4 linked regions of the Homo sapiens genome follow. The protein of the gene in region 4 purifies or fractionates together with the protein of the main gene of each other region. This does not show direct contact. Each region holds a gene or a part of one and is shown on either strand. Other genes may lie near its edges.

The links.
Region 1: the proteins of LGALS3 (region 4) and SLC12A7 purify together in Homo sapiens (affinity purification with mass spectrometry; 5 studies listed by BioGRID and IntAct, with this or other methods). This does not show direct contact.
Region 2: the proteins of LGALS3 (region 4) and SLC15A4 purify together in Homo sapiens (affinity purification with mass spectrometry; 5 studies listed by BioGRID and IntAct, with this or other methods). This does not show direct contact.
Region 3: the proteins of LGALS3 (region 4) and SLC30A1 purify together in Homo sapiens (affinity purification with mass spectrometry; 4 studies listed by BioGRID and IntAct, with this or other methods). This does not show direct contact.

Annotation. Positions count from the first base shown.
Region 1 is NC_000005.10:1,109,049-1,116,440, forward strand, and holds the start of SLC12A7 (solute carrier family 12 member 7), read right to left. Parts: upstream 3,016-7,392; 5' UTR 2,944-3,015; coding exon 2,820-2,943; intron 1,554-2,819; exon of another isoform or gene 1,472-1,553; intron 1-1,471. UniProt on the Homo sapiens protein: Mediates electroneutral potassium-chloride cotransport when activated by cell swelling. May mediate K(+) uptake into Deiters' cells in the cochlea and contribute to K(+) recycling in the inner ear.
Region 2 is NC_000012.12:128,806,950-128,813,970, forward strand, and holds part of SLC15A4 (solute carrier family 15 member 4), read right to left. Parts: intron 3,163-7,021; coding exon 2,994-3,162; intron 2,525-2,993; coding exon 2,447-2,524; intron 2,008-2,446; coding exon 1,839-2,007; intron 1-1,838. UniProt on the Homo sapiens protein: Proton-coupled amino-acid transporter that mediates the transmembrane transport of L-histidine and some di- and tripeptides from inside the lysosome to the cytosol, and plays a key role in innate immune response.
Region 3 is NC_000001.11:211,576,151-211,583,955, forward strand, and holds the start of SLC30A1 (proton-coupled zinc antiporter SLC30A1), read right to left. Parts: upstream 3,012-7,805; 5' UTR 2,463-3,011; coding exon 1,841-2,462; intron 140-1,840; coding exon 1-139. UniProt on the Homo sapiens protein: Zinc ion:proton antiporter that could function at the plasma membrane mediating zinc efflux from cells against its electrochemical gradient protecting them from intracellular zinc accumulation and toxicity.
Region 4 is NC_000014.9:55,132,241-55,139,261, reverse strand, and holds part of LGALS3 (galectin-3), read right to left. Parts: intron 5,911-7,021; exon of another isoform or gene 5,908-5,910; coding exon of another isoform or gene 5,870-5,907; intron 2,280-5,869; exon of another isoform or gene 1,893-2,279; coding exon of another isoform or gene 1,889-1,892; coding exon 1,871-1,888; exon of another isoform or gene 1,218-1,870; coding exon 894-1,217; intron 1-893. UniProt on the Homo sapiens protein: Galactose-specific lectin which binds IgE. May mediate with the alpha-3, beta-1 integrin the stimulation by CSPG4 of endothelial cells migration.

The sequences.
Region 1 (7,392 bases), on a different chromosome or scaffold from region 4:
CTGGGGGTACAAGGCAGGACCCACCCTCTCCCAGCCCAGGGAGCCCCAGACGAGTGGAAGTCCCTCCTAGACAGTGGGTGGCCAGGGCCTGTGGGACCTTGACAGAGGCTCTGCACGCTGCACCTTCCAGACAGGCCGGGGCACTGGCCAGCCCTCCTTTCCCACCCCTCCCAGGGTCTCCGAGGCCTCTGGACGCACCCCTACAACCTGGGAAGGAGTGAGTCTACCCTGATGTGGTCACGGAGGAAGGGTGGGCTCCCCCAAGTCAGTTACAAAACCCACTCTACCCTGAAGTCGGACGAGACGCAGCCGGCCCCCAGCAGTGTCCTCCCACCTCCTACTCTCAAAAAACCACCCCACTGAGAAACTGAGGGTTAACACGTCCTTCTCATTTCAAGACGAGGTATTTCACATAAGAATAAAAGCTCCGTCCCAAGAAGTGCTGAGGGCACAGTGCCCATCCCCGGGACAGGACGCCTCCCGCAGAGGCTCCACCAGAAGCAGCAGGGAAGCTGCAGGGGTCGGGGACAGAAGGCCCCTGGAGCCAGGCTGGGCAGACGCGGCCTTGCTGGGCTCTGGGTCGAGCCAGGCAGCCCGGGCAGCAGCATCTACCCCTCTTTCCCCAGAACCCCCCAACCCAGGCTGGGGACACCAAGGCCCCTGCTCCTCAAGTTGGGGTGGCTCAGGACGCCCTCTCCACGCCCACCTGGCAGTGCCTAGGATCAGCCCACCAGGCCCCCCAAACTTGCTTCGCCGTCACCCAGGCGCCAGCCCAGAAGCTCCAGTACCTCCACAGACCGTTCAGGGGAACGGCAATGGAGTCAGGAAGAGCTTGGGTGCTGGTAACTCTGTGGCCGGACAGTTTTGGACCTGGCCTGTGACCTTGTGGTGTGGACCCCACACAGAAGGCCTTTGGGAGGGGCTCCGGCTTCTGCAGGACCCCCGCCCCCAACCACCACCAAAAAGCAAAGCCTGTGCCTCCTTCCCCAGGCTCCGTGCCCATCACGGGACTCCTCGCCGCACCTCTGTGGGCTGAAGATCAGGATGTGATCAAGTGGATTCCGAAGGGCAGCTGCGTGCCCGTTACAGCCTGGCAGTGGCTGGGCACCGGGCCCTTTCTGTGGAAGTAGGAAGCGGGTCCAGCACAAAAGCGCCAGGTGCAAGTTCTCTGCCAGTTCGGAGAAATCTCCCAAGTTCAGCTCACACCACAGGGCCACCCTCAAAAGTGTCCAGAAGCCCACACCTGGCCCATGCCCTCCCGTTCTCAATTTCATGAAGGCCAGGGAGCCTCCTGACACGCCCGTAGCAGGACCTGAGTGCGCGGGCAGCGACATGGGCAGCGCTCAGCCAGGGCCACTTCCTGCTGGGCAGACACAGGCCCAGGGCACTGCTCAACAGCCTTGAGAGTAGAAGAGACAAGAAAACGAACAAGCACAAAATTCTCTCTGGCTTAAAAGCAAATGACACTTACAGTCTAAAGACAAAAGTGAACCTGATCAGCCTTGAGAAGGGGCCGGCCAGACAAGAAGAGGCTCCTTCTGAGTGCGTTCCGGGGGCGTTGCTACAAAGCTCACACAGAAAGACCACGCCAGGGCCCACACTCCTTGGTGCTTCCTGCCTCCACGGTGGTGACTGGAGAGAAGGGGCTTGGACTCACGGACCCTGCTTAGTTAGCACTTCACCTGGTGTTGAGCCTGGCGCCCCGCCTGACCACTTCCAAGATCTGGGCTGGCCTCTGTGCAGAGGAAGCTGAGACCACTCTTCGCCCGCCACGGGGACCCTGATGACGCACCCCAGGCCACCAGGCCACTGCCTTCACGGTGGGTCCCCACCCGTGTCTCCGGGTTCCTAAACTGCCTGGAGGGGATGTCTGGCCTTTCCTGCCCGGGATGGTGGGTTAGGAAGGATCTGGGGTCTGGCACCGGACTTGTCCCTGGACAGACCTCACCTTCCTTCCACTGCCAGGGAGCAGGGAGGCTGCCACCCACTGCATGAGACCCGGGCACATGCGGGCACTGCCAGCACGCGGGGTGGGGGCTGGACTGAGTCCGGACACCTTCTCAGAGACTCCGGATGGAAGGGCCTAAGAGCCTCCGGTTTCTAGAGGGGGCTGAGATCCGGGGAGTAACTGGGATTTGGAGCCAGGATGGAGGGAACAGGGCTGGGGGATTCTCTCCCCAGCCCCGTCCCCACCCCCTAGAGAAAGTGAAAGTGCTAGAAACCTCCAGATTCCCGGAACGGGGGACGGGAACACGGAGGACGCGGCCTGAGCAAGGCCCCGGTGGCTGCCCCCTCCCCAGCCAGGGCGCAGTCCTTCCTGTTCCGCCTCTGGGGGGTGGGCGGCTCCTCCAGGGTCAGGCGGGGGCAGGACGGGCCGGCCCGGGCTAGTGTTACCGGACGGCCGCGGCGCAGGGGAAGGGAGAGCGCGGGGGACGCAGGACGCCCCGGCTCCCGAACCGCCCGGGTCTCCACCGCCACCCCTGTCCCACTAGGGACCACCCAGGGGCCCGGGCTCCCTCCGGAGGCGCGCTCCAGCCCCTCCCCGTTTCCATGGCTACCAGCAGCGGCGTCCACACCTCTGCCCCCGGTCCCACCCGAGCTGACCGTACCGGGAGCCCTGGCAGGGCCCCTCGCCCCCTAGCGCTGCCACTAACGTGGGGTGGGGGCCCTCGTGGGGGACCGAGAACAGGCGGTGGGGGCGCGGGAAGGGGCGCCTCCTGTACCCCCGGCCCCGCCGCCCGCCTCCGCTCCCGGATGCCGGGCCCAGACCCGCGCTCGGGGCGCTCGGCCTTTGTCCGGCCAGGTGCGGCCGCGCTCACCCGGGCTGGGGCGCTCGGGCTCGGGGCCCTCGGGGGTGCCCGGAGCCTCCGTCCGCTCGGCAGTCTCGTCCCCGCCGCCGTCGGCGTGAGCCTCCACGGGCACCACGGTGAAGTTGGTGGGCATGGCCGCCTGCAGCCGACAGTCCCCGTCCCGGCCCGGCCCGCGCTGCGCCGCTCCCGCCGACGCCACGGGACTTGGAGGCAGGGGCGGGGTCCGACCGAGCCGCCCCGCCCCGCCCGGGCCACGTGACTTCACCTGCTTGCCCCGCGGCCCCACGAAAAGTTGGCCCGCGGCGACTTCCTGCAGGGACCCCAACCCAGGCTGCGTCTGTCTGACCGCCGCGACCCGGGACGCGGGGCTTTCGCTGCCTGCGCTCCCGACCATCGCAGAGCCCGCGAATCCCCGCTCAGTCTCCTGCACCCCCTCCTGCTCCAGCCCCCTGCCCCTCCTGCTGGAACTCCCCGCCCTCCCCGCCCTCCCCGGCCCCCTCCCCGCCTCCCCTCTTGTCCCCTTCCCCGACCCCCCACTCCTGCTCCAGCCCCCTGCCCCTCCTGCACGCCCTTCTGCTGGAACCCCTCACCCCTCCTGCACCCCCCCACCCTTCCTGCACCCCCTCCTGCTGGGCCCCCCTGCCCCTATGAACCCCCTCCTGCTGGAACCCCTGCCCTTTCTGCACCCCCTCCTGCTGGGCCCCTCCTCCTTCTGCGCCCCCTCCCGCACCCCCTCCTGTTTGCCCCCCATTTCCTGCTCCAGCCCCCTACCCCTCCTTCTTCCCCCTCCTGTTCCCCCCTGCCATCCTCCAGCACCCACCTCCCACACAGTCCGCCCACCCACTCCAGGCTGTCAACACCCGCTCAGACCCTGGGCTCCTAGCCTGGCTCCTGGCTAGCCCAACCTGGCTGCAAAGGCAACTCCAGTGGAAGGAGCCTTGGATAGCCTGGGGGTGGGGTACTCCGGAGCTTGGTCCAGCTCCAGTTTAGGGACCTAACCCAGTAGAGGGAGTCCCCCCCCCCACCCATGACAAATACCACCCACGAAGACCCCAGTCTCCTCCACACCTGCCCCAGGAGTGCCCCGCGGCCCCTGCCCTAGAACCCTCCCTTCCCTCCTTGGGAAATGTTCCAGAAGCTCACAGGGTGATGCAGGGAAGGTGGAGTTCCAGAACCCACCAGGCAGACACCAGGATACCACCGGCCAGCACCTGGCACATTTCTCAACAAATGACTCATGAAAAACGGAACAATCAGATGTCCGTCAATGGGGAATTGGGCTAAAATGCTATGGCACACAGGTGCAATGAGTCAGCCTTTATTCCTAATCACCCACAACTGCTGTACGACAACAAAGCAGAAACACAGGTGGTGTGGGCAAACACGGCCACAGCCTCTTGTCACGTGGAAAATGGGTATGGCCTGGCCATGTTTTAGCCGCTTGCCTGTCTAATCCTAAAAGGCAGCTGGAGGGGAGTGATGGCCTCCGGGCTGTGGGATCACCGGGCTCTGTGGGTTCAAGGAACGCAAGCCCAACCTCTCCAGCCATTTCCAGTAAAGCCAGTCATGCCCTGGGGTGGCCTAGGGTTCTACCCCTTTGCCCCATGGACTCTTCTGGGCAGAAGCTGTAGGCCTGGGACCCTCCTGGAACGTCGCCCATCCAGCACCAGCCCTTGCAGAGGTGGGGGTTCCTCTGGCCTGGGTGTCTGGAGCTGTGCCTGCTCCACACTCTCACCCCACCTCCCACCAAAGGGAGCTCAGGGCTGTGGATGGTGCTAGGTCAGCTGCCTCCCTGGGTCAGTGGGTTGGAAGGTAGGAAACCATCACCTCCCCAGAAGATAAAATAGTTCCCAGGCATCCTTATGAGGAGGGCTGGCTTTGCTAAAAAGATCCAGGGGGTGGGAACAGAAGTGCCCAATGGGGTCAATTATAGGGTTCACACTTAGGGTGCTGGGTAAACCCTCTCCTCAGTCACCCCAGCAGGGGCTTCTGTACATTCAACCCTGGTTGCCACCCAGCGCTATTCCCGAGGGTTGGACAGAGCTCAGGGTGGGCACGAGGCCTTCCCAAGTGATGCCAGCAGGAGCAACAGATGTGCAGGGCTCCCGTCGCACATCCAAGCTCTGCTTCACACCCCAGGACCCCAGGGCCGGCTGCCCGCCATGTGCTGGCTGTGGACCTTCAGAGGAGCTGGTTTGGAGGGTCTGTGGCCAGGGCCAGCTCCCGGACTCAGGACTCATCAGCTTCATTTTACAGAGGAGGAAACTGAGGCCCAGGAGTTTAGGGTCCTGTGGCAGCTCCGAGGGTGGTCTTCTCTGTGATTACAAAATCTTGACTAGGACCAGGGGCCATGGCTGAAGCACCTGGGTGGGTGCCCAGCCCTGCCAGGCAGAAGGCAGGTGGCTTCTCTTGTTTAAATCTTAGATCTTACTTGTGGGAGACCTCGGGTGGGGGGTGAGGTCTGCTGCCTTTTGCATTCTAATCAGGTGAGTCACGACAGGGATCAGCACCCTGTAAGCACCTGCGGGTCAAGACAGAGACCCTTGCCGGAGCCCAGAAGCCGCTGCAGGCCCCTCCCATCCCATCAGTAGCCCATCCCTAGGGGTCTGGTGGCCCCTCCCTTCGCTCTGTGGGTTTCCGTGTCCACGTATATCCTCCCACACGGCAGCCTGGGGTTAAATGTGCGTTGTGTGACTTTCAGTGCTCTCTTCCTACCCACCTCCATCCCTCTGTCCTTTTCTGTACCCGGCACCTGTTGTAGGAAGTGGCCCTCGGACACGTGGAGGTACCCGAGGCCTGGGTTGGAGCTGCATCTTTCGGTGCAGGCCTCTGCGTCTCCTGGAAGTGGGCACCTGGAGCCAGGGGACTGCTGGGATCCGGGTCCAGTCCCCTGGCAAGGCCGGGGGCTCGCAGAGGGAGCCACGCACTGTCTGGTGGTAGCTCCTCCGTCCGCAGTCGTTGGTGCTTGATGTCTGAATCGACAGATTCATGGAGCAAAATGGTGATTTTCCAGTGCGTGGTGGCTTCGTCATGAATTCACTGGAGGGAGAGGCTCATCTTGTCCGTCTGGCCATCTGGATAATGGTGCCCACAGGAAAGGCAGGGCAAGGGTGCCTCTCCCTCATTTGTCAGTTTCCACAACGGTGAATTGGTTCCCGACAATCTCCCAAGTATATTTGTACATCGCTGATGAAACACATTGGTGGGTCTCAGTCGATCACCATTAGTGCCCTTTCCAAGCATCGGTGTCCAGCTTTGCCCAGGGGGCCTCTTCAAATGCAATCTCGCATCCTTATGATGTGAGCCTGGTCATCTGCGATGGCCTCTTGGCCGTGTGCAGGGCACAGCCAGGGGAACCCTGGGATTTAGTGCGAAAGTGTAGCCGATGGTGGTTACATTCTGTGTGTAGATTCTCGAAACAGTCCCTGCTGCCTGCCACCCTGGGGTGGAGTTTCTAATGGATTAGGACGGACACCCAATGCCAGCTTCCAAGCCAGGAGGCCGCTCGTGCCCACGGCTTGGAATCAGGGCTGTGGCCTGGGAGGGCTCTCACCAGACGCAGGCTGCCTCCAGGTATCTGTGTGCCTCTGCCCACGGAGCTTCTCCCCAGGTCCGCGGGTCCCCCCAGTCCACTTCTGCTTTCCTGTTAGGGTGGGGGGCTCATCTCCTGGTGCGCCATCTGCATCCTTCTGGGCTGGGAACCTGCTGTCGGGTATCAGGCAGGGCGCACCTCCAGGGCTGAAGGATGCAGGTGGGGCTGGCAGGCAGAGTGTCCGTGGAGAGCTCCGTGTCCAGGGAAGGGGACACCTGGAGGAGGCCGGCCCTGGAGGCCCCACACTCCTTCTCACCAGAAAGCCACCCGCCTTCTGCCTGGCAGGGCCGGGCACCCACCCAGGTTCTTGCCTGTTGGCCCAGCACCCATGGTGAGTGGGGGAGAGAGCGAATAGGGCAGAGCAGAAGAGAGAGGGGAGGAAGGAGAATCGGGGGAAGGGGGAGGGAAAGGAAAGAGGTGGGAAGGGAGGAGAGGGAAGGGAGGCCCCAGTTACCCAAGGCTAAAGTGATTTTTAAAAAACAAACCTTTTTTTTTTTAAGCGTGGTGAGCCTCTCCTGGCAGGGTGGGGTATGTGGACATCAGTGGAGGAAGCAGAGTCTCCGGCCACCTGTGGGACCCACACTCTCCCTGCCCAGGAGTCCCACCAGGGCCGAGAATTCTGCCCATGGCCAGGGTGGCCCTAAAGCCCCACATCCGCCACCACCTGTGGGGGCTCGAAGGGAGCTGTGGTAGGCAGGGATGACAGAAGACCCCAGCCACAGCCCCAGGCCCATGGCTGCATCTCCCCTGAAGAAGCAGCCCTGTCCCAAGGGTTCTGCAAACAATGCCAGGCTCTTCCCAGGCAGGCACCGCAAGCTGCCCCCCGCCCCGATCCCTGGCTTGCCCAGGGCGGGGCCTCTGGGCCTGGTGGATGGTGGGCCTGGCCTGGCGCTGGGGAGCCTGTCTGCACAGTGGCCAGGTACGTGGGGTTCTGAGCCTCCCCCGGGTCCTGTGCCTGCTGGGCAGGGGTACATCCCATGGAGCTGAATC
Region 2 (7,021 bases), on a different chromosome or scaffold from region 4:
CTGGAGTGCAGTGGCGCGATCTCGGCTCACTGCAACCTCCACCTCCCGGTTCAAGCGACTCTCCTGCCTCAACCTCCCGAGTAGCTGGGACTACAGGCGCCCGCCACCATGGCCAGCTAATTTTTGTATTTTTAGTAAAGACAGGGTTTCACCACATTGGCCAGGCTGGTCTCAAACTCCTGACCTTGTGATCCACCTGCCTTGGCCTCCCAAAGTACTGGGATGACAGGTGTGAGCCACCGTGCCCGGCCTGCTAGCGCTTTTTAAAGACAGAACTGACGGAGTGCAATGGGGAAATCTCAACAGTGACTGGTCTGGCACTTGTATCCTGCACAAACACATATCGAAACCACCAGAATGGACTGCATGGCTCTCAAGGCAGCCCACAGAAGTGATTCAGCCATTTATGAAACTGAAAGAGAGGATGTTAGGAAAGGAGCCCAAACCAAGTATCTACTGGAAAAGCCTCCGGAAACCAAGGACGTCTCCTTTCCCACAGGGAGGGAACGAGGACTCCCTTCCTTGGCATCAACCAGTGTGGTGACGGGGCACAGAGAAGGCACTCCAGCCCCGGGGGGAGAGAGAGGTCTGAGGCCAAAGCTGAGCCTGCGCTTTGGGGAGGTAGGACAGGCAGGCAGACACAGCCTCCAGTGCAAAGACTTCCTGCAGACAGCCCTTCTGCAGGCGCACTCTGCTGAACCGCAGCCTGCAGCTAGAGCCCTGCGGTGATTCAGTTCTTCTCTGCCCATGCTTATTTCCCCATGTGCCACAGCTCTGGAAGAGAAGCTGAATTATAAAGAAGGCACAGCAAAAACTTCATTCAGACACGACCTCACTTTAATTATCTATTTGAACAAAAGAAAATGCAATAGTCTTCTAAAATGTCCCAGTCTCTAGAACAGAGATTTCTTAAGCCCAGGGACTAATTTCTTTAAATCTATTAAGTACTATATCAATACATTCAGTCTGGCAAAAGTAGATGAAAGCTGCTATGAAGGCAGCATTGTTTGAGAATATTAAATTCCATTTCAGCAATGCTTAACACTGAATTCCTCATGACAGCAGATAATACATAGTTGGTTCAAGAATATCAACTTTTATTATTATGTAACTAAGCTGTTTCATCAGTCAATAATTTTCAAATATTAATGAAGGGAGAACTCCAAAATAATTCAGAAAGTCAGCAATACCCAGCTTTATCAGCAAAAGATAAACAACTCATTTCAGCACATAAAAATTATGAAAACAGAATGGAAATCCTCAAAAGGATAACTCTCCTCATCAGAGTTTAGAGACTTAGGCATTTGTTCTTATCAGGTTTATCTGTAGCGGGAGGAGATGCTGCCCAGGAGCCTGTAACAATCTAGAAACATTTTTGTCACCAGAAAAATGCACACAGAATTTTACATAAAAAATTCAAAGGACTCGCAGGCACCCTGACACTTGTTAATAAACCTAAGGTTAGTAATCTGAAGGTGGAATTCTCATCCTTGAGGATGATACAGTACCTTTAATTTACAAAAATTCATCTATTCAGCATTCAATAGCCTAATTCTAAATCAGTAGGTAGAGAAAAACCTCCCTTTAACTCAGTCCAAATGTCACTTTTCAGAGCAACCCAATGGTTTTAGTACCAGCAGAAAAATGACGTATCCTTAGGAAAATAATCTTAAACTTTAAAATAAAGGATTAGTGCTGTAAAATAACTGATACACATCCTCTTTTACAGACATGCACTTCCTGAACAACCTGGGGCACGACTGCGTGTGAGCACTATATTCTGAATCCACAACTGCTGCAGTCGGGCCTGAGGAGGAACGGAGCAGAATGCCTCTTACCTGCAGCAAAGGCCGAGCACATGACAAAGAACATGCCCACGGCGATCCTCTTCAGGGAGGATGGGAGCAGGCCATGTCTTCTCAAAATGGGATCGACCAGTTTGTCCTTCAGAGGGATGAGCAGGAGGATGAGCACAGCATCAAACATGGTCAGCCAGGCTGCAGGGAGCTGGGGTGAAACACAGGAGGAGGCGTTTACTCCCCGCAATACAGGCCATCACCTGTCTAGAGAACCAACGTCTCAATGGGAGAAATGCACGTAAAGAACAGTTCCTCTCCACAAGGTACAACCTCTTCAGTTTAGAGACAACGGAACTGGGAAAAGATTTCTTTCCAAATGAATCTGCATTTGCTTTTCTGTGTTTTGAGGGGAAAATAATCAGGTGAAAAATACTAAGTAATGTTGAATTGATGTTAGTCAACCTAATCTAGCAAATGATACAACCAATGAAAAAATATTCTCTAAAATAAGTAAAAACTCTATTTCAATAACAATGCTTTTGTGTCGGTGCTGTTAACATTTATAAAAGATTTACAGTTGGTAGAAGGAATCCATTTATTACATAAGTCCAAAATAACAATGTTCAGATCATTACAATTGTTCTTACCGTGTGAGGAGTGGTTGTAATATTTGAAATTTCTGGAATCCTCAAATGAAGACTCTGTAAAACATATGTTGTCTGCATCTAGGTATAAAAAACAGTATCATTATATGTGGACCAACTGTGCTCTCAAACACTCTAAGCATCCTGCCCCTCCCCTAAGCTAGACTCAGATGCGACACACAGTGACTCCCAGAAATAGACAATGGCTCAAGTTTGAAAACAGACAGGTCAATGATTTGGTCATCGTAAAGTCCTCTGGAGATCAATTTTGAAAAAGAATGGCCAGTTATCCAAAGGAGAAATTACATTAACAAGAGGGGCCTGAAAAACCAGAAGCGTACCTGTTCTCAGCTTCTTTTTCAGAGAGGCTTTAGACATAGTTAAAGCAGCCAAAATGACTCCATAACTAAAACCAAAAATTCCAAGATTCTGTAGACTCATGGGAAAAAAAATCACCTAGTCCTACCTACTTTAGAAATGGCCAAAACAAGTGCTAGGGTAAGACTTCATAGGAAGATAAAGGAAATTAAACCTGTTTGTCACCACTCACTTGGAAATACACTGTCCAGTAAGGTATCAAAGCCAAGAAAACAGGGACAATCTTGACCAGAGCTTTCACATCTTCCACTTTCTCTTCTGTAAATGGCCCACCATGAGACATCTTACATGAATCAAACAGACTTTGTTTAGAAGATTGCTGAAAGACTCCAATGCCTTCACTTTGGGAAATAAAATGAAGGAATTAGTTTTCTTCCCCTCCCAGCAATCAATTATTTGGTCACAAATTAAGTTTGGAGGTAAGAAACCAGCTCACTGTATTGAATCTGCTTCAACTCATTCCATCACTTACTAATTGTACACACCCAACACAGCTACCTAAATTATTTCTAAATGTCACAGAATGTACTGAAACAGCTGACAAAGGGACTTTCTAGTCAAAGTGAAACTGGGCTACTGTAATTTTGGCGTGGCTGGAAGATCTGTGATGACAGTGTGAACCACGGCTGAGCTGAGAGCCCCAGCGCAGCTGCCAGCTCGGCAATCTCCGTGTGGGGAGAGTCTGCAGCTCTACGTGACACTGGGAGGGACACTAGCTATGCCACTGGATAGCATATGAAAAAATGCACTGGATTGTGTGAATTTTTAATCAGCTAATTTATCAAACATCAAGACCTGACAGCCAATACCCATGCTGTTAATAAAACCCTGCTGGTTTAAACTGAGTCACTGGCAGGACTGAGGCAGGCTTCTATTCTCGGAGGAAAGCTGTCAGCTCTTGGATTAAGGAAGAGCTGTTGGGGGAGGGCGGTGCTGGTGGTGATGAGAGGAGGATGTCCCTGGCTCTGTCCCCTGACAGTAGGAAACAGGGAGTGCCCAGTGCACCGCGTCCCATGTGCTCCCTCATTAACCATGTGGTGTTAAAACTCTTCAGGGCCCTATTGCACAGAGGAAGATGCCGGGGCACAGAGAGTGTGAAGGGTGCCTGAGGTATGGCCAGGACTTGGACCCAGGCAGTCTTGGCTTTACAGCCTGAGGCCCTGACCCCTGCAGGACACCACTGTCCCTCCACTCCCTGCCACTGCCCTCACATCTGCCGGTCACAGCAGGAACATGGACCTGGCATCCCCAGCTCTTGTACTAACGAGTTTCACTTCCTTGCTCTGGGCCTGCTTCATTATTTAGAAAATGAACAGGCCCCACTAGACAGCTCCGCACTCTCTCCCAGCTCCAAAACACTCTAATGGGGAACGGGCTCCAAGGATCTCAGGGGTAAAATGGGAAAACAAAGTGCACACTATTCTCTAAAGCCAGAAGTACCAGGAGAGAGTTAATTCCCAATAAGATTGTGTTTAACTGTGGGAAGCCAACAGAAATGGCACCTGTCAGCCTTCTAGTTTATTAACTCATGTCCCATTTTACTATGGTGCCAGTATTTTAAATTCTTTATCTTATAAAGTCAACATTTTAAGTCTGGACATTCAGAGTGGGGAAAAATAGAAGCGCTGAAAACTATAACTGAATATTTTAGCCAAATTTTGGACAAGAAAACTAAGTTCGATTCAACAAATACTGATCGAGTACCTGCTGTAGGCCCTGCATTGCTCTACCTGGGGGCTAAAGGGGAGGGCTCCTGTCCTTACGGACTTAGTCTAGTGGGGGAAAATAATCAAAAACAAAAACACCCAAAAGTGAAAATAAATTCCAAAGACATTATAAATACTTTCACTCGAAAACATTAACTTCTTCAAGTACTACTTTTTTTCAAAAAGGAAATTAAAGTCCTTTTGTACCTAATGCAGATACTATCAGTGGTTTACCACATCATATTAAATACCTTTCACTAAAAACATTTAAATAACAAATAAACCCATTTTCACACAAAGAATCATTCACACAGGTTACTGGTTATATTACTTTCGCTTTATGTAATTAAAATATTTAAAAGCTGTGAAATCAACATGCATCTGAAGCTTTACTGGGTTACACATATTGTTAGGTGCACTATTTTGCAACATACAAGGGTCCAACACGAAGCCACGGTCACAAGTGACACCCGAACACCCACAAGAGCCCTCTGCTCCTCCCACACAAGTTGACGAGCTCCAGTTTCAGGACGCCTGTGCCTGAGTCTCTGTGAAGGCCGCATGTAGGTGTGTGTATTCTCCAGGAAAAGAGTCCACTGGTTCTCACGGATTCCCAAAGAAGTATGTATCTCAAAAAGCTGTAGAACCATTTCTACTCTGGTCTGATGAGTTGAACAAATACGCCTTCATTTCTCATTTAATATCAAGCACTATATTATCTTCAAAACACAGATCAACCTGGATTGAAACTGAGATTGGGCCAGATGAAATTAAGTGTCACAACTGTAAAAATGTTGGGTATGTCATGCTTCCTCAGGCTTTGGAGGCCCAACTTTTTTTTTTTATTTTATTTTTTCGTTTTTGAGACGGAGTCTCGCTACCTTCCAGGCTGGAGTGCAGTGGTGTGATCGCGGCTCACTGCAAGCTCCGCCTCCCGGGTTCACGCCATTCTCCTGCCTCAGCCCCCCATGTAACTGGCACTACAGGCACCCGCCACCACGCCCGGCTAATTTTTTGTATTTTTAGTAGACGGGGTTTCACGTATTCGCCAGGATGGTCTCGATCTCCTGACCTCGTGATCCGCCCGCCTCGGCCTCCCAAAGTGCTGGGATTACGGGCTTGAGCCACCACGCCCAGCCTGGAGGCCCACCTTTTTTAAGGCACCCTCGTCACAGTGGTCACCACTGACAGGGCCCTTATCATGTACCTGGCATCCTGCTGAGGGCCTTGCACACATCACTGTGCTCAGGCCCCACCGTGAGCCCATGAGATGAATCCATCTCCGCTGTAAAAAAAGGAAAGCTGGGCTTCGCAAGATCAGTAACCTGCCCAAGGTTACAGAGCCAGTTCATACAAACAGCAGAATCTGAGAATTCCTCAGACCATCAACTTTTCTGCAAGCTAGCCCCTGCTTTTTTTTCCCTTATTTTTGCCCAAGAAGACTTTCAAAGACTATCCTAAGAGGAAATCGGCTTCCTAAGTAAAAGTAACTCCAAACCCTCTCCACACTGCCATTTGTGCTTTAAAACCCAAATATGTCCACAGAACAATGCTGTTCTCTTGCAGAAATGTCTATGGGCTACCACCCACACGGATACTAAAACTTTAAGGGTTGTTCCTGAAAAAGACCTCTAGGATCCGAAACACTGCTTTTGTCTGATCAAATAAGGCCCTGGCAAAAGACTAGTGTCAGCTAAGATGGGGCTATATTTTTTTTTTTTTTTTTTGAGACAGGGTCTCACTTTGTCACCCAGGCTACAGTGTAGTGGTGCAACCATGGCTCACTGAAGCCTTGACCTGACCTCCTGGGCTGAAGTGATCCTCCCACCTCAGCCTCCTGTACTTTAATTACTAAAAATTCTTTAGTGCGGTCCCACCATTTGCAGTTTTGAATTATGTGTCTGAATGCCACAATGACCCACTGGCATTTCCAATAGGTCATGTAGACTGGTGAGATCTGCCAGAACTCCACACAGGGACAGCCGGAGAAATCAGAGATGTTCAGGAGCAAAGTAGGCGCACAGGGCTATTTTGGTGAAGTTTCAATCTACCACGTGGAAGGAATATTAGACACATTCGCTACGGCTCCAAGAGCATGAGTAAGACAAACACAGACAGGCCGCAGGCAGGCAGATGTGTGAGTGGGCCCGCAGAAGAATGTCCAGCAACCAGTGCCATGCCACAATGGGGTGCACGGCTCAGAGACACAGGACGCTCTGATGGCTGAGTGATCAGCCTCCCACCCAGCAGCCTCCAGGCATTTCTACGTTGATCAAAACATTCCATGAGGGGACTGACTACAAAAGGTCCCAGAGACTTCTCTGGAAGGATGGAAATAATCTATGCCTTGACTGCACTGGTGGTTACACAACCTGAGTAAGTTTGTCATAATTCACAAAACTGTACAGATATAAGGGGTAAATTTTACTATCTGTAAATTATTCCTCAATAAAGAGTAACACAAACACTTCTGAGCTCTCTTCTTGGGCTTAAG
Region 3 (7,805 bases), on a different chromosome or scaffold from region 4:
CCAAGGACATGCAGAAAAACTCCACGCATGTTAAGTTGTCCAGCCCTATCTTCTTCCAGTTCCATATGGTCAGGTTCTCTGACAAGATTTCCATTCACTTGTACTTCCACTGTATCACCACTTCTGGGGTTTTCTGGGTCTACAAAGAAATAAAAATTTTATATCAAATACATTTAAAGTGTTTATATAAACATCCTTGTCTAATTCTTTTTAAGTGGTGATGAAGGTGAAAATTTTTTCAGAAAGTACAATTAAAAAAATGTGCTCAGAGCAATTTAATATAAATTGACATTCTGGGAATGAGCCAGGACATAATAGCCAGGGCTAAATTAAGTCATTGTGATACTGCTTCTTCACCCTCCTAACCACTCTCCTGCCTCCTCCTCTCCAAAATAGTGTATATTTTCTATGGGGGTGGAGTCCTGCAACCATTCTGCTATACTTTATGGTATATACAAAGGAAAACATAAAATTGAATGCTAACACCAAAATTAAATGCAGCTAGGAATAAGTCTACTAATACAAAATACCTGATTTGACACTCGGGCACTCTCTAGTCACTCTTTGTCACTGAGGCCAATTGCTTGAGAATAAAACCAATTTTAACTTTTAAACTTTTATTATGAATATAAAAGTTTCTTGGTAGGGGGGTTTAAAAACTGACAAATCAACAATAAAAATCAATAATCACAGAGATTATTAGAAAAATTGAAACTAAATGACTACCTGCCCTACTAACTTTTAAATCAAAAGTATTGATCTTTTCAAAAAGTATTGATCAAAAGTATTCAAAAAGATAAAAAGTATTGATCTTTTGAAATTACACACCAGAGAAACTTAATTTTCTTTGGAATAACACCTTGCCGAGTGGAGTGAGAGGAAAACCAATTACTTATTAAACCTTTCCAATGTACAACTTGAATTTCACTAACTTCATATTCTGCACTCGAAAAGGAAAATTATGTAGCATAATTTATAATGATACAAGGTAAATAAACGTAAGTGAAGGAAATAAGACCAAATTGTTAAGCACCATTGAGCTTGGGTAGTAGGACACTGGTTGAGTCATTTCCATCTCCTTTCTTTCAACATTTATTTTCAAATTTCCTTCAAGAGCACTTAATGTTAAATATAAAAAGCATCCACTAAAAATATAAGATGAATAAATTACCATCACTTTTAGTTCAGTACGATTATGAAAAGTCCTGGGAAAATGTTAAACATGCCCAGACAGGTCCTAAATCTATGATTTCCAGGATTAGGGATCAATTAGCTGAAGCATACACTGCTGTTCATAAAAGAAACCTTTAACCAGGGTTTACACGCTCTGAATGCATATTATGAAACGGAGTTCAATGGGCATAAGAACTACTTTGGCAGAGCAAGGTTTCCAGCACCCAACTACTGGGGACGAATTGGGGATTCTCTCCGTTTCCCAAGAGGGCCAAGGAATTGAATTGGGAAGCATTTCTGACGCTGTTATAACCATAACCAGACAAGTCTCCAGCAAAGTTGCTGCAGCCTGTAAAGACAGCCAAGTGCGGGTGTGGACTGCAGCGGGATGATGATCACCTCCTGACCCTTTTTCTTAGGGTCTGACCCACAGCCCCCACCTACAAATATGCCAGACGCGTCGCCGGCTCCTTGCACCCGACTGAGGGGGTTCTGATTTCCTGGAGCAGCAGCGGGGCGTGTGCAGGACGGGGAGGGAGCAGGCAGGGGCGGCGCGGCGCAGGCCCGCTCGGGCAGCAGGGGGCGTGCGGGCCACCCCGCCGAAGGCCAGGCGAGGCTCTGGGCACCCCAAACCCAACCACCTGCGGCAGCGACTTTCCCGGCTCACCTGCGGGGTCCAATTTCAGCCCGTTGGAGTTGCTGGTATTGGCCACCAGGGTGTTGGTCTCCTCCTGGTCGGGACCCTGCTCGCCCGGGGCCACGTTGATGTCGCTGCTCCCGGGGCGGGTGCTCTTAACGCGAGGCCCCTTGGGGAGGCCGTGGCCGTGGCCGTGACCCCCGTGCGAGTGGCCGTGGCCGGAGTCCTGGCTGAAGCCGCTGTGATGGTGGAAGAGGCAGAGCCCCAGCACGTTGACCAGCAGCCCGGCCACGCCGACCCCAAGGACCACCAGCGGCTGCTGCATCTCGTGCGGCTCGATGAAGCGCTCGATGGCCTCCAGCAGGATGGCGAAACAGAGGCCAGTCAGGAAGATGGCGTTCACCAGAGCCCCCATTACCTCGGCTCGGATCCAGCCGAACGTGTTCTTCTGGGTGGCGTGGGTCCGCCGGGCGAAGCGCTCGGCCACCAGCGCCACCACCAGCGCCAGCACGTCCGACAGCATGTGGAAGGAGTCGGAGAGCATCGCCAGCGACGAGGTCACCCGGCTCACCACCACCTCCAGCACCATGAACATGAAGGTCAGCGCCAGCATGCACAGCAGCCGGCCCCGGTTCCGACCCCAACACCCCATGGCTGCGGCTGCGGGGCCCGCCGAGCCCGGCCCGGAGACTGGTGCAGCGGCGGCGTTGGCGGGACGCGGAGGGTCGGCGACCGCGACACGGAGGAGCGCCCGAGTCGGGCCGTTCGGGAAACCGCTGAGGGGCCCCCGCGGCCGCACGGGGACAAGCCCGGGTCAAGCCGCCGAGCCCCGCGCCTGTGGGCGTTCTCCGCCAGCCGGCGGCGCCGCGCCGCGCAGCTCCTCAGGCGTCCGTCCTCAGAGCCGGCGCCGAGGCCCGGCTCAGCCTCAGCAGCCCCCACACCCAGGCGGCGGCGGTGGCGGGGAGCTGGGCTCCCGGAGCCGGGGTACCAAGAGCCGCAGCCGGAGCAGGAGCAGGAGGGCGGCGGGCGAGGGCGGCAGGAGAGGGCGACGGGCAGCTTCGCGCCGAGAAAGCTCCGAGCATCTGAGGGCTCTGCTTGCTGGTCTCCTCTGCGGCGGCTGGACTGAGGAGCGGATGGCTGAGGAGCTAGAGAGGCGGCGGCCACGGCAGCTGCACTCGGCCCGGTCTCGGGCGCCTTCTTCGCCCCCCCGCCTTTGCAGACGGTTTACAAAAAAACTTTGCTTTGCACTCGGAACCCCCGTTTTCACACGGACCCGAGCGTGACAAGGCCTTGCCGCCCCGCCCACCAGGCCCGGCACGCTTCCCCATTGGTCAGGACCCCCTCACGACAGCCTCGGCGTCCCGCCCAGCCACGCTCACTATTGGATGGAGCCTCGGAGGGGCGGGAAGGGGGCGGGGTCGCGGCTCCAACAGATAGGGGCGGGGCCTTTTCCTCCCGGAGCCGGGCGTGGGCCGGGGGGCCGTGGCCGGGTGCAGCGGCGGGCGAATTGGGGGCGCGGGCCGCGTGCAGCGGGAGGGGGAGGGGCTGGCCGGGTCCCCTCGGGTGTGGCGGAGTCCTGGCCTGCGGACCATCGCAACTCCCAGCACACCTGCGGGGGCCGGGCTGCAAAGTCTGCAAACAGACTTTGATCCTCCGAGCCCAGTCCACGTGGGGGCGGGCCGCGCGGCGGCTGTGTGACAGCTCGGCGGCGGGGGAGGGGCCGGAGGGGAGCCCCTGAGCGCGGGGCCCTCGAGTACTCGGTCCTGTCGGAGGAGGCCGACAGACGCATAAACAAGTGCGACTGTAACTTGGGACTCTGCTGGACGCCGAGCTGAGGAGTTAGTCCTCCCGAAGGTCTGCTAGGGGCGTGGACCGAATCTTTGTACATGTTTTGGGAAAGCCAGTTTCTCCTATCACCATCAACCCCTGGAGACCTTGTGTGAACTCAGGTGTCTGTCACTGATTATCTAAGGACAGTTCAGGGTACAGACTTCAGGCAGGAGAAACCTGGGCTCTGCTCCTTGCCTTGTCAATAGCCAGCTGTGTGGCTTTGAGCAAGTCACCTAATCTCTCTAGACCTGTTTCCCCATCTATAAAGGACTGGACAAATGCAACTCTGAAGATCCCCGTCTGACTCCAAAATTCTAAGGCTCTATGATTTAACATTTATTTATAGACTACACACGGTGGAATCTTGTGCTGGTTGCTATGGGGAGGTGGAGGGGCAGTAAGAATACAAAGGAACGAGTTTCTGTCCAGGTGGAGGTAAAATATAAACACGACATTTTAAAATTACGATGGAATACTCTTGATAAATTGTGCTATTTTAGACTGAATACATAAGCACTGTGTTGTGGGTGGAGATGAGTTGATCTGGAAAGGAACAGCTTGCCCATCTAAGGTGGGGTGGTGGCTGGAATCAGAGTGGCTTAAGCTGGACCTGAAAGGCCTCACCACAGCCCCTGCGCAGCAGAAGGACCTCCCCACCCACTGCCCTAGATTACTACTGGACAAATGCAGTGCCAGCTATTGCCTGGAGATGTGTATACAAGGCTTGTTTGGAGCTGTTATTTTGCATTGTTTTGGTATTCTTGTAATTCCTATGAAATTTTTTTCACTTGTATGTAGTGTGTTTCTAGTCTCCCCATCCAGACTGGAGAGCTGGATCCTCACCTTCTGTTTCTGTTTTGCTGGAATATAAAGAATGGAGGAAAATTTTCAAGACATTATTAAGGAAAAAATGATAGAATTTGATGATTAATTGGGTATTGGGAAGGAGGAAGCTAGGTAGGAGAACAAAGATAGTTATAATGTTTCTAACCTGACAAGGAAAATACTGCCTTAAACAGGTGAGGAAGTTGGGAAGGGAGGCCAAGAAGCTGATTTTTAGGAGAAAATATGAACTCCATTTTTAATGTGCTTAATTTGAAGTGAAGTCTGGGTTTGGGCAGTGCTAAAGGGTGGATTAATGGGTTTAGGACTTCCATAACTTCCTCTCCTTTGATATGGATGAGTGACAGTTTTCTGATCATCTGTAAACACAGCTTCAAACATCCTATCAACTAGCCCCTCATATACAGAAATTCGGAAGCCACTTATGGGTCAAGATATCCTCATGGAAATGGCCTAGAGGCAGTTTGAAGACCATTTTGCTTTCTACTAAGGGCTGCTGTGCCTCGCTTTATTTAAAAAATACATTCCTCCAAATGCGAAGATTTGATACCCAAAGAAGAACCAATAAGAAGATGTAAAAGTCAGTGATGCTTGCAAACACAATAGCAATCCTTCAATAACTAAACAGACTAAATTGGGAGATTTTTAGACCCATATAAAAACAGGTTCAACTCATAGCCGCTTCTGAAAACCTACTTTGTGCCTGCATTTCAGCCATTTCCCAGACAATGTGCTTTATTCCCTCCTGGTGGGTGGTTGGGGGCGGGGCAGAGGGGGCAGGGAGTACATTTTCCAGGTTCTAGAGAAGTTATAATCATGTTCTCTGGAGAGAGTAATATTTACCACACAGCAGAACACTTCAGTCAGACTTTGTTTCCCTCTAACATTGTGTAGGCAAAAGACTTTGGTACCTCAACTCGAGCTTTTTCCCTTTTCATCTGGTTGTCCTAGTAGAGTGTCAACACAGGCAGGAATAGATTAAAATGAAGGGACACTATACTGTTATTCACCAACACCCCTGGAGGCTGTGGCCCTGGGTTGAGTAAGACGGCTTGGCTTTCTCTTCTTAATGTTTGAGAAATCTCCTGATAACTTGCTTAGTATCCAAACTGACTAAACCCAGCATACTTTAAAGATGAGAGAATAATGCTCTTTTTGGAAAAGAGACTGCCAATTTGAATGAAAGTCAAGGGCTTCAGACAAACTGCAATCTCAAAGCCCTCTGGACCTCTCCTTGCTTTTAATGAAAGTTTAAAATGATCTTGTAAGATTCTCGTAAAAACTGCTAAACACAAACGTACTTCTGAATTTTGGTAATCAAAAATCATGAGTGTATAAAGCTGTACCTTGCTTGGAAAGATAAAATAACAAAACCCTGTGAAAACCACATTATATTTGACTTTGGCTGACAGTAAATCACTTCTAATGTTCAATCTTAAAACTGATGGGGAAATCTCTCAAAACATAAATGAATAATTATTACAAATATGAAGTGAAATCTCTACCAACAACATGAAGGCCAAGGTTTGATTTCTCAGCTGCTCTCAAAGGAACAGGCAGTGGAACAAAGAATAAACAACTGACAATGCAGCAATAAAGCCCAGAAATAGCACTAAAGTCTCAGAGGTGTGAGGGAAACCATATGAAAGAAATGGTCAGAGCAGGAAACCCACGTAGCAGCAAAGGGGAAACAGGAACAGTGCAGAGAGTGAAACTGTACAGTAAGAGGCTGGGAACAGTCACTGAATTTTTATATTTGTTAATTTAAAGAATAGGCCGGGCACAGTGGCTCACACCTGTAATCCCAGCACTTTGGGAGGCCTAGACTTGTGGATCACCTGAGGTCAGGAGTTCAAGACCAGCCTGGCCAACATGGTGAAACCCCATTTCTACTAAAAATACAAAAATTAGCCAGGCATGGTGGTGCATGCCTGTAAAACCAGCTACTCGGGAGGCTGAGGCAGGAGAATCGCTTGAACCAGGGAGGCAGAGGTTGCAGTGAGCTGAGATAGCACCATTGCACTCCAGCCTGGGCGACAAGAGCAAAACTCCATCTCAAAAAAAAAAAAAAAAAAAAAAGAATAGCAGATGAGGGCTAGCAGCAAAAGGAACTTATTTTTCTTGGAGGCTGGAAACTGGGTCTAAGTTCTCCAGTTATGCCTGGAAATTCAATCTAGAAATAAAGGCACTGCTATCTATACAGAAACACTCATTAAAAGCATCTGTGAATTTCTTGGGTGCAGTGCTATATAATGTTAATACCAGAAATTGTTGAAGGCTCAGGTAGTCAGTGTTAAGACTTTAGACTGAATGCCCATTCTTTCTTTAGCCCTTCTACTCTTGGGGCTGGAGATGGTAATTAAAGCACAATGTACAGAAAATTTGAAAAAAAGAATTTAATTTAAAAGTATGTTTTTATGACTCTCTCCATTACTCATCCCTAAACATGCCGGCCAGTAGAGCATTTTGAAAGGATCACACACCTAATGAGTTTTAGGATGACAGTTCAGGGACTGGCCCTTAAAAGTTACTGTGTGATGTTGGAGAAGTTACTAAACCTCTCTGGGCCTCACTTTCCACATCTTCTCAGTGATGGGGTGTACATGATAGCTTCTTAACTGGAGTTAAAAGGTGAGTACAGGAGATGGAGCTGCCTAGTGCATATTCTCAGACAGGGCCTTTCAGGCCTCCTGTACTTGGGGTCACCAAGAATCCAGAGCTGAGTTCTCAACTTGCAAATTCAGAAACCACTTTTGAATTATTTCACCTAGGCGAACTCATTCATATGGACACAAAAAGGACTCATTTGCCAGCTGGACTTCCAGTTTGTTCACTTTCTCTGTCTCGGGTTAAAGCTCATTGCACAGGTCCTTCCTCCTTCCCTCTTGGTAGGCAGAACCTCACGGAAGGAAGGTTGCATGAGGACGGAACTAGGCTGCAGGAGCTGGAACTTCTGTGGAAGGGAGCATTTCCAGGCTCTCTTCTAGACTGTAAAATTATCTTGCCTTTCTCCAAACAGCCACTCTGCCCTCCTGTTCCTGAGTTGTACTCCATTTTACTGCCAGAGTGATCTTTTTGAAATCCAGATCTAGTCCTTGCAAAATACACATCCTCCACCACCCCCACGCCATCACGGCTGAGATCTTGCAGTGGCCTCCCAGTGCTAGGAGAAGGAGAACCAAACTTGGGTGCACACGGCCGGACCAGATCTGATCTGCCTCTGGCTGCTGTCCCCAGCCTCATGATGTCGCTCCACCAGATAAAGAGGGGACTGGCCTTTCTGACCACCATGAATCTACACACTCCCTCCTGCCAGAAGGCC
Region 4 (7,021 bases):
CCTAAGACATAATCAGTAGATTCTGGGGGTTCTTCCTCTGTAATCTCTCTTACATCTGCCTGTTCCTTTCCACAGCCTTCATGTCTCCCTCTCTCTGCAACTGACTAACCATCTCTGGTATAGGCCCTCTCAATGCCACCCACTCCCCCAAGTCTTTCTACTCTAAACTGACCTAAAAGGAGACAATGCTACCTTGTGCTGTCTTCTGCATAGTCCTGAAATGGTCTAATCCCATACTGGTACTTAGCTCTTTCCTCATATTTATTATATGTTTTATCATCCAACTAGATTATAAATCTGGAAAGGAAGGATCCTGTGGCTGAGATGTATCTGGATCCCCCATGGAGTTATGTTTTACACTTAGAATTCACTTGCTATGACATATTTTAATTTGCGTGAAAATTCAACCCTTAGATCACAAAATTATCTTTAGAAGGTTTTTCAAAACCAGATTACCCTGGTTCCTCTACATGTTTGCTCAATGACCCTGGACAAATTATATCACTTCTCTATTGCCCCATTTCCCCATGTGTGAAATGGGGTTATTAACAGTATCTTATAGCGTGGTAATGGGGTTAAATGAGATTATCCATGTAGATGCATACTATTGACATGTACTCCGTAAGTGTTAATAATAACCAAAATGTTCTCCATTACTACAATCTTGATTTATATTCATAAGCAGTTTTATCAGTGCCTTCAAAATACTCATTACCTTCTGTTTATACTAACCACACACAATAAGCTCAATATGAACACTTAATTTTTTGACTCTACCAACATACACCCATGGCTGGCCCTTGAGAAGTGGCTCTAAGCAGCAGCTTTAAAGCTCAGGGTCTCCCTGAAGCCCTCTGCATGTCAAGTACATGAAAGAAGGAATGCCATCTCACCAGTGGCCCAGCAGGGGCGCCATAGGGGCCAGTGGCAGGGTAGGCTCCGGTGGCACTTGGCTGTCCAGAAGATGGGTAGGCCCCAGGGCCGCTGGGTGGCCCTGGGTAGACTCCAGGTGCAGGTGCTCCGGGATAAGCTCCAGGTGCTCCAGGGTAGGCGCCTGGAGGTGCCTGTCCAGGATAAGCCCCTGGGGGTGCCTGCCCGGGGTAGGCCCCAGGATAGGAAGCCCCTGGGTAGCCCCCTGCCCCAGCAGGCTGGTTCCCCCATGCGCCAGGCCATCCTTGAGGGTTTGGGTTTCCAGACCCAGATAACGCATCATGGAGCTGGAAAGAAAGACATACACAATTACGGGACAGAAAGCATTCTCAAAAGCAGAATTTTCAGGAAAATAGGAATATGTGATCTAAGAAGGAGAGGAATATGGCAAAGGCATTACATGCATATCATTAAACTTTTTCCACTTATTAATAGTTTGAGTTTCTAAGACTAAAATTAGATGTTGGGATTACATATACTTTTTCACTTTATTCTTGCCTCCCAACGTCTCAGATCAGGGAGGGCTGCATTTTCATAATTAGCTCAAGTCAGGAGTTAGCGCTCCTCTACTTATAGCACATACTTTTTCATCACCGTGAGAAAAACAATCACAAACATCAGAATGCCCAGACTGTACCGCACTTCCCGCTACTCAGAGGATTTCTCAGCTCCTGCCGGCAGAGTCCACTCCCTTCCGCCCTGGGCCTTTTGGTGAAAGGGTTACTGTGAGTGAGTCCCAGGCCTCGCTCTGCCTGGCTTTCTTCCCAAATCTGCTGCTGGAAAAACAAGGCTCCAGCTTGCAAGCCCTCATTGGACAAATGAGTCCAGGGGAAGCCACGCAGTGGGAGAGTGAAAAGGGAAAGTCATGGTAAAAACAAAACCCCCAACCCTCAACCATGTGGAGCTGATCAAGGGGAAGAAACAGGCATAAAACACTTACCGAAAAATTGTCTGCCATTTTCCTGAAAGAAACAAAGATTATCATTTTATCCTAAAAGCTTTCACCAATTTCCATTAAACTGAACCTCACCACTAGTTCATTGTGCAGTTCTAATCCATCTCTAGGCATTATGCCTAAGTCAGTAGTGTGGCGCCACAAAAACATCTCTTCAAGGGGCAGGGATGCTATCCAGCTAGATTGCCAAACCCTATTTAACTCACAAGTTTAAACTTCCGTCACACTAGCCTGTGCTCTGAATCTTACCCATCTGCCCTCTGTCCCCACTAACTGCCCCATCCCCTACTCTGGGTTTTTGAAGATAAGCAGTGATTGATTACTACTGAGACAGGAAAGACAATGACCTCCAGACATAGTTGCTGCCCTGCTATTTATTCCTCTATTTGCACACACTTATGCCTGCTCCTGGCCAGGCACTGCGCAGGCTCCTATCTAGGTGTGAAGATGAATAGGCCATGATCTGCATGGTCAAAGGGGCCACAGGATCTAAAACTCAAAACAATTGAGCCCACAGAGATATAGAATAGAAGGATGGTTACCAGAGGCTGGGAAAGGTAGTGAGGGAGGGTGGGAGGGAGGTGGGGATAGTTAATGGGTGACAAAAATAGTTATAATGAATGAATAAGGCCGGGTATTTGACAGCACAGCAGGGTGACTATAGTCAATAATTTCATTGTACGTTTGAAAATAACTAAAAGTATAACTGGATTGTTTGTAACACAAATAAATGAGAAGAGGGATACCCCATTTTCCATGATGTGATTATTAGGCATTGCATACCTGTGTCAAAACATCTAACGTATGCCATAAATATATATACCTGCTATGTACCCATAAAGATTAAGAATTAAAAAAAAATAAAAGCCGAAGGGCCTACAGTGCAGCAAGGCAGATGAGATGCATCCATGGAAATGTGAAATAACAAGTCACAGATGCTATGAGTCAGAATGTGTGCTGTAGGAATTCAAACCCAGAAAGCTTACTTCTAAGAAGGAAAGGAAAGGTGCTGTTGGAGCTAAGCCTCAAAGGGGAGCTGAAGTTTGTATGTGCTTTTTTTTTTTCAAAGGTACTTGTTATTCCAAATAAAATATTTGGCAGTACAACAAACTAAGGTGAAAAAATTCAGGCAACGTGACGTGAAGGAAAAAAATATTTGGGTCTAAGATGCTACCAAAGAGGGTTTGCCTAAGGGGTGGTCTGGAGACATCAGTCCTGCTTTCTCCTGTTCCTTCCCATGTCAAGGCTCCAAAAGCACAAGATGCTTCACAGCTGTTGTAGGTGCTCCAGCAGTGAGGGGAGGAGGGCAGCTGGGCCCCTGAGGCATGGGTGAGTTCTTCCTAAGCTCAGGATCACCTGTGCCATGGCCTGAATTACCTGGACCTTGAAACAACCAGAATATCCTTCTCTTTGATTTGCCCACCTGTGATATTTACTCAATCACTTTTAGAAATGGCATCGGCCCCAAGGGATCCAATAAATGTCCACTACTTGATTCAAATGCAAGATATTGGCTGGGTGTGGTGGCTCATGCCTGTAATCCCAGCACACTGGGAGGCCAAGGTGGGCAAATCGCTTGAGCCCAAGAGTTCAAGACTAGCCTGGGCAATATGGCAAAACCCTGTCTCTATGAAAAATACAAAAATTAGCCGGGTGTGGTGGCGCATGCCTGTGTTCCCAGCTACTCGAGGGGCTGAGGTGGGAGGATCATTTGAGCCTAGGAGGTCAAGGCTGCAGTGAGCTGTGATGGCACCACTGCACTCCAGCCTGGGTGACAGAGCGACCTCATCTCAAAAAAAAAAAAAAAAAAAAAAAACCATAAAATATTACCTTATTTTTGGTAAAACTCAAACAGGCAGAGCTCCTCCTAGGGCTTAACATATGCTTCATTTATACACACTGGATATTTTATACAGGTTGAGTATCCCTTATTTGAAATAGGACCAGAAGTGTTTCTGATTTACATTTTTTTTTATTTTGGAATATGTCCTTATGCCCAGTTAAGCATCCCTAATCTGAAGAGCCAAAATCCAAAATCTCCAGTGAGCATTTCTGTAGAGCATGGCCTCTGAACATCATGCAGGCATGCAAAACGTTTGGGATTTTGAAGCATTTCAGATTTCTGCATTGGGGATGCTCATCCTTTACTATACTGCTATTATTTATATCATAGTCAGACATTACCTTTGACTAAAATATTTTTGCACATCTTTTTTTTTTTTAGACAGGGTCTTGTTCTGTTGCACAGGCTGGAGTGCAGTGACATGATATCAGGGCTCACTGCAGCCTCCACCTCCCAGGCTCATGTGATCCTCCCACCTCAGCCTCCCAAGGAACTGGGACTACAGCCACACAACACCACACCCAGCTAAGTTATTTTTTTTTTTAGACACGGGGTCTCACTATGTTGCCCAGGCTGGTCTCAAACTCCTGGGTTCAAGTGATCCTCCCACCTCAGCATCCCAAAGTGCTGGGATTACAGGCATGAGCCACCGCATCCAGCCACACATCTCTTTTTGAACATGGTCATTCTGAAACCTATTCAGAAGTGGTTAGGTTATGACCATGCCCATTTTCCAACCTAGGGAACTGCTGGCAGCTTGACAGGGAAGTCACGGTGACTCCAGAGGTTACTGCATCTTTCATTTACGTTACATCCTGTAGTGCTTGGCTTTTTAAAGCAAAAGTTGTGAGCTCCTCTGCATGTGCCTCCTTCCCCAAAAGGCTGCCACACTACCGTATAAGAAACCGTATAAGTTGCTACTGCAGGGGGACCTTGAGAGAAGAGTTGTTACAGAAAAGGAAAATAAATGAAAATTTTTAATTCAGAAAAAGAAAGTCTCCCTCATTTTGGATGCCATACGAAACAATCTTGAACTTCAAGGTGGGCAGAAAGCTTAGTTCCTTTAATTACACATACTTCTTCCACCCTAAGGCAACATATCAAAGACCCAGCAATAACGTTATCAACATTTTGATTTCTTTTAAATGTCCTCATTGCACAGGAGCTTATTGTGAACCTCAGCACCACTGACACTTCAGGTCAGATGCTTTGCTGTGGGGCGCTGTCCTGTGCACTGCAGGATGTTCAGCAGCATTGCTGGCTTCAATACATATGCTGCCAGAACTCCAGCATACCACACTCCAACTTGTGACAACCAAGTGTCTTCAGGCCAGGTGTGGTGGCTCACACCTGTAATCCCAGTCATTTGGGAGGCTGAGGCGGGAATATTGCTTGAGCCCAGGAGTTCAAGACCAGCCTGGGCAATACAGCAAAACCCCAGTCTCTACCAAAAAAAGGAAAACAAAATGTCTTCAGACATTGCCAATATCCCCTGGGAGCAAAATCATGGCTAGTTGAGGACCGCCAATCTAGCTAGTTAGCAGTGTATCCCTACATGAATGTACACACGTGGTTCAATAAAAACCAAAAAGGTAGTTTCAATTGTTAAAACTAGCTGAATTTGCCTTATAAAGGGTCCTAACATAACTCTATTCAAATTAAGATGTGTTTAAAGGCTGATTCCAACCAGAAAGTCAAATAAAGAAGGCATTTCCATAATTTAATATTTATTCTTTTCAAAGCCTCTGCTCAAGCATGTTTAGTTTATTTTCCAATCTAACCAAATCCAGTTTGGGAAACAAAGCAGATCTCGTTGCATTTCCACTGTTTCAACACCACCTCGGAGGGCAGTATAGATTGTGTCTCGACACATTAGACAAGGCCACTAGAACAAAACCTGGCATTTGTGTGGCGCTTTTCAGCTTATGAAGCATGTTCACATACCTTATCTATTTTAGTTATAATGACATTCTTTGTGGTGAAATCTTGTACTGTCCTGCCATCTCACTGTCCAGCCTGGGACATGAATCATCCCTATGTCCAGCCTATCTACACTGTAGATGCTACCCACCCACAAGTCACTTAGTAGCAGGCTTGGTTATCAGATCAAAAAAACAGTATATATAGGGTTTGATACTAACCATGGTTTGAAGCATCCACAGGGGGTCTTGGAATGCATCCCCTGAAAATAAGGGGGAGACTACTGTGTTCTCACCATAAGGAAACTGAGGCTCAGAGAGATAACATGGTGGCCCAAAGTCATCTGTCATTGGCAGATCAAGGAGTAGGGCTCGTGTCTTTTTACTCCTTATTTAGGCTCATTCTACACCAATAGAAAACATCACACTTTGAAATTTTAAAGTACAGTCCTTTGAAAGTGTTAATTACTTCATTGTGAAATTAATTCTCTGACTTACTCATCTGTAACTACATAACATACTGAAATTGTAAACAAATTTTTTAAAAAGGATTGTGTTTTGGTCAGAAAACTAACTGGGTGATTCATTCAAGCACAAAATAATATTGAATATTGAATACAAGAATGCCATTTTGTATAGTCATTTGCTAATTATAATGACATTTTAACCAATAAAGTGTACTTTTCCAAAAATTGGGTATGCCCCGTCAACTTCCAACCATGAGATTTCTTTTTTGAAAAGCATTATAGGCCGAGTGCAGTGGCTCATGCCTGTAATCCCAGCACTTTGGGAGGCGAAGGCAGGAGGATCATGAGGTTAGGGTTTTGAGACCAGCCTGGCCAACACAGTGAAACCCCATCTCTACTAAAAATACAAAGAATTAGCCAGGTGTGGTGGTGGGCGCCTGTAATCCCAGCTACTCAGGAGGCTGAGGCAGGAGAATCGCTTGAACCCGGGAGGCAGAGGTTGCAGTGAGCCAAGATGGCACCACTGCACTCCAGCCTGGGAGACTGCGAGGCTCCATCTCAAGAAAAAGAAAAGAAAAGCATTATAACTGATGCTCTTTTGAAATCAAGATTATTAACCTCAAAACTTTCAGGAAAACAAAAAAGACATCTATTCAGATAAGTATCATCCTTACTTGCCTGAAATTTTTTTCTTTTTTCTTTTCAGATGAGTAGTTTACAGAGAGAGACATACAATCAAATGTCACAAATCTTCCCACTCTACAGACACTATAGATATGTGAACCCCACCCTGGTGTTTCCAGGATCAGAGAATTTTGAACAGTCAGAGGGGAAAAAAAAAAAACTTCAAAAAATAAACTAAAAGTAGAGAAATACTAGCTGGGTCTCCACATTTGTAAACACCTAC